Linked DNA regions of Homo sapiens. The protein of the gene in region 2 interacts with the protein of the main gene of each other region in a biochemical or structural test. Each region holds a gene or a part of one and is shown on either strand. Other genes may lie near its edges.

Evidence for each region. Proteins that work in one complex are often made in the same cells at the same time.
Region 1: of the proteins of IRF4 (region 2) and USP4, one has a biochemical effect on the other in vitro, tested with the Homo sapiens proteins (one study listed by BioGRID).

Annotation. Positions count from the first base shown.
Region 1 is NC_000003.12:49,284,425-49,288,077, forward strand, and holds part of USP4 (ubiquitin carboxyl-terminal hydrolase 4), read right to left. Parts: intron 1,902-3,653; coding exon 1,674-1,901; intron 496-1,673; coding exon 425-495; intron 161-424; coding exon 42-160; intron 1-41.
Region 2 is NC_000006.12:394,689-398,341, reverse strand, and holds part of IRF4 (interferon regulatory factor 4), read right to left. Parts: intron 3,522-3,653; coding exon 3,335-3,521; intron 2,496-3,334; coding exon 2,407-2,495; intron 1,235-2,406; coding exon 1,090-1,234; intron 1-1,089. UniProt on the Homo sapiens protein: Transcriptional activator. Binds to the interferon-stimulated response element (ISRE) of the MHC class I promoter. Binds the immunoglobulin lambda light chain enhancer, together with PU.1.

The DNA of each region.
Region 1 (3,653 bases), on a different chromosome or scaffold from region 2:
GGTGCATGGGGCCTCTGCCCAGACAGTGAGGAGCTGCGTACCAGGGGTCATGCTCCCCAAGGGTCTCCATGGTGGTGAAGAGCTCGATGCAGTCTCTCAGGGCCACTGTGGTCTTCTTCTTCTTCTGAGGCTGCAACATGCTCACATGCTTCTCGTAGGCCTATGGGAATCAAAGCACTCAGTTCTGCTGGAGAAAGAGATCTTACTGCATTAAGACATGAAGGCCTACAGAGGCTCTCCCACCTGGAATGTAGTACACTTTCTAGAGCCTCTGAATATAAAATGACAAAATCTTGAAGTGCTTTTCCTTCTCAGTCTTAAATATAACTTGCTAAATTGCTGTCCAACTGGTGAAAGTGATCGCAGTCCACATCCAGAGCAGAAACCAGCAGACACCACCGACCACGAACCCCGAGGGACCTACCTCAGATTCTTGCTCATCATAGTAAAGTCTCCGAGTTTCACTGTCCCAATCCATGGCCAGTGTAGATCGAGCTGAGGAGGACCAAAATGTCACTTGTTATGGAATGGCAAGCAACAGGAAAGGCTCTCCAAGTGACAGGAGTGAGAAGGACCACACTCAGGCCACACCATCAACACCTTCTCCCCCATCAGCAGCCAGTGTCAAGAGCAATGCTCTGCAATGGGCCAGCCCTTCTGACCCCCAGCCCCAAAAAGCCTTTGGCAAAGACTTCCTCAGTGATACAGATAAGCTACGAAGGAACTAACTGTGGAGAATTCTGAAAGGGCACAGGTCAAGATGGGAGTAATAGGGACCAGATTTATCATCCTACCATAAACCACAAAAAAACTGACAAAATGGATGAAACAATTGTTTTCAGACATTGGATAGAGCAGGAAGGAGATCCCTGACAGAAGGAAAAAAAAAAAGAGACCCCTACATCGCCCTAGCTTATTGCCTGCAGGCAGTTTCCAGGACTTAGCATAGGGGAGAGAGGGGAAGATTAAGCTGAAAAGTCAAAGACTGGAGTTTGAGAAGATGGCTAGAATTTGCAAGGCATTCCAGCCTGGGCAACATAGTGAGACCCTGTCTCTACACAAACTACAAATATTAGCTGGGTGTGGTGGTGCACACCTGTAGTCTCAGCTACTCAGGAGGGTGAGGTGGGAAGGGAGCTGAAAGACAGAGATGCTTCTCCTCCCCTAACTGGCAAAGGTGTCCTCACTGGCCAATTGTGCTTTTCACACAACCCCTCAGAATGCCTCTTCCTGTCTGTAGAGCAGTCCCCATTACAACCTCCATGTGTCGGTGAGGCTACAAAATCCATGACCATCCTCTGAATGGGTACATTTCGTGAGTATTAATGAACAAAATAAATATGCGCTTATTCTTATAAGTGAGCAAGTATGGGGAAATGTTGCTGCCAAGGGTGGCCACAGGAAAGGTTATCGACCCACAGCAAATTCCCGCAGAGGGAGTGGAGGGAGACCTACTTTCCTCTGAGGTCATCGAGGACTGAGGAGAAAAGCCTGAAAGGTAGGGGGATCTCTGAAACAGTCCTTAGGGGGCTTCAAGCCAAGGGTCATACAAGTGCTGCTCCTGGAGGCACAGAGACTGTGAAAGCCCAATGCAGTGAGTGTCAAGTGTAAGGATTTTCAAACAGATCCTAAGACCCTAAAGCCCAGCTTGAAAGGTCAGAAAAAGTGCTTACAGTTGAGTTTAAGTAGTTTTCCATCAGCTGCAAGTGAATTTATGTCAGCTGTTCCATAGGAGTTCACAAGACTGAAGGTAAAAAGCCTTTTTGGGCAGGGCTGGCCTTTGATCTTCTTTTGGGTGGTCTCACTGGGGTCATTTCCTGGCTCATCTTCCCCACTGCCTTCTGTTTCTGAAAGCTGCTCTTTGCCTTCTTCCTGATGCTCCATTTCTTCCTCATCTTCTCCTGGCACATAAATGGAAAACAATATGTATATAATTTCCTACCATTTCAATGTTAAAAATTTTATTTAATACATAACTATGGTGTTTCCTTCCAGATTTTGTTCTGTGTATATGAAGTTAAATCTATTCCTTTGCATTTAACTTGAATTCACATGTGACTCTCACCACACCCTTGCAAGACAGGCAGACTGGGCACTGCTATTCCACGATGAGGAGGCAGTCTCAGAGAGCTTAAATGAGCCACCTGCAGGCACAATGAGATTCAGAAGCCCTGCCATCCTGTCTACTGGCCATCACAGCACATGGTCTCTCACTCTTGCAACTTCACCATTAGGCCCACAGAGAGAAAAGGGCTTAAATGAAACGCACACTCAACACTCAAGAAGACAGCTTGGTAAGAAACACTATCTATCTTCCATTCCATCCATTCCTTCCATCCATCCATCCATCATCCATCCATCTATCCATCCGAGACAGTCTCACTCTAGCCACTCTATCTATCTATCTATCTATCTATCTATCTATCTATCTATCTATCTATCTGAGATGGAGTCTCACTCTGTCACCCAGGCTAGAGTGCAATGGCACGATCTCGGCTCACTGCAACCTTCACCTCCCAGGTTCAAGCGATTCTCCTACCTCAGCCTCCTGAGTAGCAGGGATTACAGGTGTGCGCCACCATGCCCAGCTAATTTTTATATCTTTTTAGTAGAGACGGGGTTTCACCATGTTGGTCAGGCTGGTCTCGAACTCCTGACCTCAGATGATCCACCGGCCTTGGCCTCCCAAAGTGCTAGGATTACAGACGTGAGCCACTGCACCTGGCCCTATTTATTTATTTATTTTTTGAGACGGAGTCTCACTCTTTCGTCCAGGCTGGAATGCAATGGCGTGATCTCAGCTCACTGCAACCTCCGCCTTCTGGGTTCAAGCAATTCTCCTGCCTCAGCCTCCCAAGTAGCTGGGACTACAGGTGCGTGCTACCACACCCGGCTACTTTTTTGTATTTTTAGTAGAGACAAGGGTTCACCATGTTCACCAGGATGGTCTCTAGCTCCTGACCTCGTGATCCGCCCGCCCCGGCTTCCCAAAGTACTGGGATTACAGGTGCGAGCCACTGCACCCGGCCAAGAAACACAACTTAAAGGTCAATTGCCTTTTTTTTTGAAGTGGAGTCTCACTCTGTTGCCCAGGCTAGAGTACATTGGTGCAATCTCGGCTCACTGCCACCTCCGCCTCCCAGGTTCAAGCAATTCTGCTGCCTCAGCCTCCTGAATAGCTGTGATTACAGGCACGCACCACCACGCCCAGCTAATTTTTGTATTTTTAGTAGAGACGGGGTTTCTCCATGTTGGCCAAGCAGGTCTCGAACTCCAGCCCTAAAGTGATCTGCCCTCTCGGCCTCCCAAAATGATGGGATTACAGGCGTCAGCCACCAGGCCCAGCTATTTTCAAATATTATAATAAACACAAATATTAAGTATTCCGTTCCTCCAGAAAAAAACCTATCATGAATTTTCCTTTAGTATTTACTAAAGGTCTCTTAGGTGCAGGTACCATGCTAGGTTCCAGGGCTCCATAAGGGGAGCACACAGTCTAAAGTGAAAGTTAAAGTATCAAATAAGTAACTTTAGCAAAGATGGGGACCACTCCAAAAGGTGGTGTAAAAGTAACAGAGAAGAGCAGATTTAAAACAAAGAATCTACATACTTGATCAGTAAAAATGGAAATTCTGAGAAAAGGAGAATGTGCT
Region 2 (3,653 bases):
GAAAAAGAATGTGGCACAGAACACCTGATCTTGCTGCTGCTTCATTTACTGTTACCGATGCTTCAAGACAGGTCTCTACCTACTCCATCACTTTACACAGTTCTAAGCATTGCCTCTTTCCCATGGTTACTAATTCCATAGAGCCAGAGCAGTAAACGCAAGTCTGAATTTCAGGAGCTAGTTTTATGTTAGCCAATTCCTCCACTACCATATTGGAAACCAGCCCTTGCTGCAAATCCCTCTTGAAAAGCCAATGCAACTGAATTCTGAGCTTTTTTGTGAACATGCCACTCAGTACAAACATTAAAGAGTGGTACACCTCTTCACTACCTGCAGCCAAGGATAACCTGAACATGACTGGGGAAAAAAAGGCCAAATTGCAAAGGAACAAATATTCCTAAAACATCCAAAGGGTTCAGTGTGTTGACCTGTCTCAGGACTTCCATTTAAGTAACTAACTCAAAAGTCCTGAAGGCCTGAGTTACCGCATTGCTAGATTCTCCCTGCACCCAGCTAATGAGAGCTTCTGCTGAGGGAGCTCATTTTGATGTCTGGGGAACTCCCGAGGGCAGGGGACCACATCTAATCCACAATCAGCAAGTCTTTCTGGGACCCAGTGGTAGGTAGGCACCTGTAGAGACGTTTTATGTGTTTGCCATGGTATTTTTCCGTTCCTTTTTTAGTATCACCTCTAATTCCAACAATAGCAACAATGAACACACCACTATTCGAGAGAAATATACCAGCTCAATAATCTCCCAGCATCCCTACTTATTATTTATGAGCTTCCACAATCTCCTCTCTATATAAAAAGTGGGGGGCTGTTTTCCACTGCCTGGAGTGATCTCTGTGGTGTTTAAATAAGATCCCACGAAGGGCAGTGCCTAGCATGGATCCTGAGAGTAAACTTGGCTGTGGGATGCCACCATCCCACAGGAGTGAGAAAACCCCCCTCTCCCCGAGCTGCACACGCAGCCTCTAAGAAGGGGAAAGAGCTTTGGTGCTGCCCAGGACAGACCAGGATTCGCCATGGCCCATGGCCACATTAGCAATTAGCTCTTCTATTTCCTGCACTGGTATCCTCCTTACCATTTTCACAAGCTGGGCCTTGCCAGTGGTGGCCGCGGGGTCCAAACGTCATGGGACATTGGTACGGGATTTCCGGGTGTGGCTGATCCGGGACGTAGTCCCTCCAGCTTCGGTCGAGGGGTGGCATCATGTAGTTGTGAACCTGCTAAAGGAGTGCAGGAGAGGCTGAGATAAGAAGCACTGGCATTGAGACGGGGGTAAAGGAGTGCAGGAGAGGCTGAGATAGGAAGCACTGGCATCGAGACGGGGGTAAAGGAGTGCAGGAGAGGCTGAGATAAGAAGCACTGGCATCGAGACGGGGGTAAAGGAGTGCAGGAGAGGCTGAGATAGGAAGCACTGGCATTGAGACGGGGGTAAAGGAGTGCAGGAGAGGCTGAGATAGGAAGCACTGGCATTGAGACGGGGGTAAAGGAGTGCAGGAGAGGCTGAGATAAGAAGCACTGGCATCGAGACGGGGTTAAAGGAGTGCAGGAGAGGCTGAGATAGGAAGCACTGGCATTGAGACGGGGGTAAAGGAGTGCAGGAGAGGCTGAGATAAGAAGCACTGGCATCGAGACGGGGGTAAAGGAGTGCAGGAGAGGCTGAGATAGGAAGCACTGGCATCGAGACGGGGGTAAAGGAGTGCAGGAGAGGCTGAGATAGGAAGCACTGGCATCGAGACGGGGGTAAAGGAGTGCAGGAGAGGCTGAGATAAGAAGCACTGGCATTGAGACGGGGGGTGCTCTTACAGCCTCCAAACTCCTCAGGGAATCCCTTATTAGACTGACAGCCGAAGCATTTTATCATCCGAAAAGACTGGAGTGAACCCTTCATCAGACTAAGTGAAAACACTCATGGAGGATCATAAAGGACAATGGAGATACTTGTACTGTTTTATGTAAAGCTTCGTCATATGGCTAAACCTGGCACCAAAAGTACCACAGGGGAATTTGCCTTCTTTTACCCACCAAAGTGGATGAAACAAAGCTGTCATTCACATCAAGAAAGCCTGAAGAGATCAGCTGCCCTGTGGTTTCACATGATAAGGCACTACTTCCAAAATCTTCCACTTCCACAAAACATCTGTTTCCCAGAAGACCTGAGAAGCATATTCCAACAGGCGGACACGCCCGACCCTCCCCAACTTAAAATCCACACCAATGGCAGCACCGTGTGGAAAGTGAGACATTCGTTCAGTGACCTGGGGTTTTTCTGGGCTGTTGGAGCAGCCATAGCAAATGGCAAGTTCTGCTGTCTGGGCTGCTGTGGTTCTCTGGCCATGTGGGCAGCTGGCCCACACAGCCTCGCCCTCAGGGAGCCCAGTGCCCTCCACCATACCTGGGCTGGGAGCGAAGGGTAAGGCGTTGTCATGGTGTAGGGGTGGCTCATGGACATCTGCGGGTCCTCCAGGGTGAGCTGCTTGGCTCCTACATGTTTGGGGAAAAGGGAAATGGCACAACGTAAAAACAGGAACTGACCTAACTAAATGTCAAATCTTGTAAAAATACCTGAGCATTTAATTCTTAGAATGCATAACACGGTGTTGACAAATAAGGTATTTTTCAGCAACTCCCTTGGGAAGTTATTTTTTCATGCTATTAAACTGATTTTTTTCTACAAGGTCTGAGTTGTACAGGACAGGTAAAGAAATACATGACAGATGGCATGCGAATGTGCCTTGTGACATAAAGGACCCCGCCAGCCAGATGTTTCCCAAGTGAGGTCACCTGAAGGATTTGTTCCAGATGCAGATTCCTGAGCTCTCTTCCAGACACACTGGTCAGAATCTTGAAAAGAGGGGTCCAGGAATCTGACTTTTAATAAACACCTCAGCTGACCATGTTACACTTTAAAAGTTGACAGTTTTATTACCATGCATAGTGATGAGATATTCCTCTCATTACTCCTTTTCTGCAAAATAGTCACTCACTAAAGACTATTAGATAAGTAAATTTTAACAAGTTATCCAGTTTTCTTTTTTCTTTTTTTTTTTGAAAGACTAACTGGAAAACACATATTCAATGCACCCCCCCCCATATACATTGAGGCATACAGTGTGATTAATTCTCCTATGCTGAACCCCACAGGAATTTCAACTTGTGACCCACATAACTCAGGCAAGGAGGCTGGGCTTCACTGTGAGGCAGAAGGCAGGCAGGCAGGCAATACAAAAGGAAAGCTAGAAAGTGATGCTCAGAATGAAGTTAAGGTGCCTCAAGGATCTGGCTGCCTCTGTTAGGTGACCCAAATTCAGGAGAGCCCCTACCTTTTTTGGCTCCCTCAGGAACAATCCTGTACACTTTGTACGGGTCTGAGATGTCCAGCTGGCTCCGCTCAACCAGTTCCTCAAAGTCATTGCTCTTGTTCAAAGCGCACCGCAGGCGCGTCTTCCAGGTGGGAGGGTCCGGCTTGTCGATGCCTTCTCGGAACTTTCCTTTAAACAGTGCCCAAGCCTGGTGGGAAAGAATGAAGAGAACGAAAAGTCAAAATACATGTCTGGTTTATTAGCTTTCTTTTTGGAATCAGAGTCCTGCTCTGCTGCCCAGGCTAGAGTACAGTGGCACGATGATAGCTCACCGCAGCAT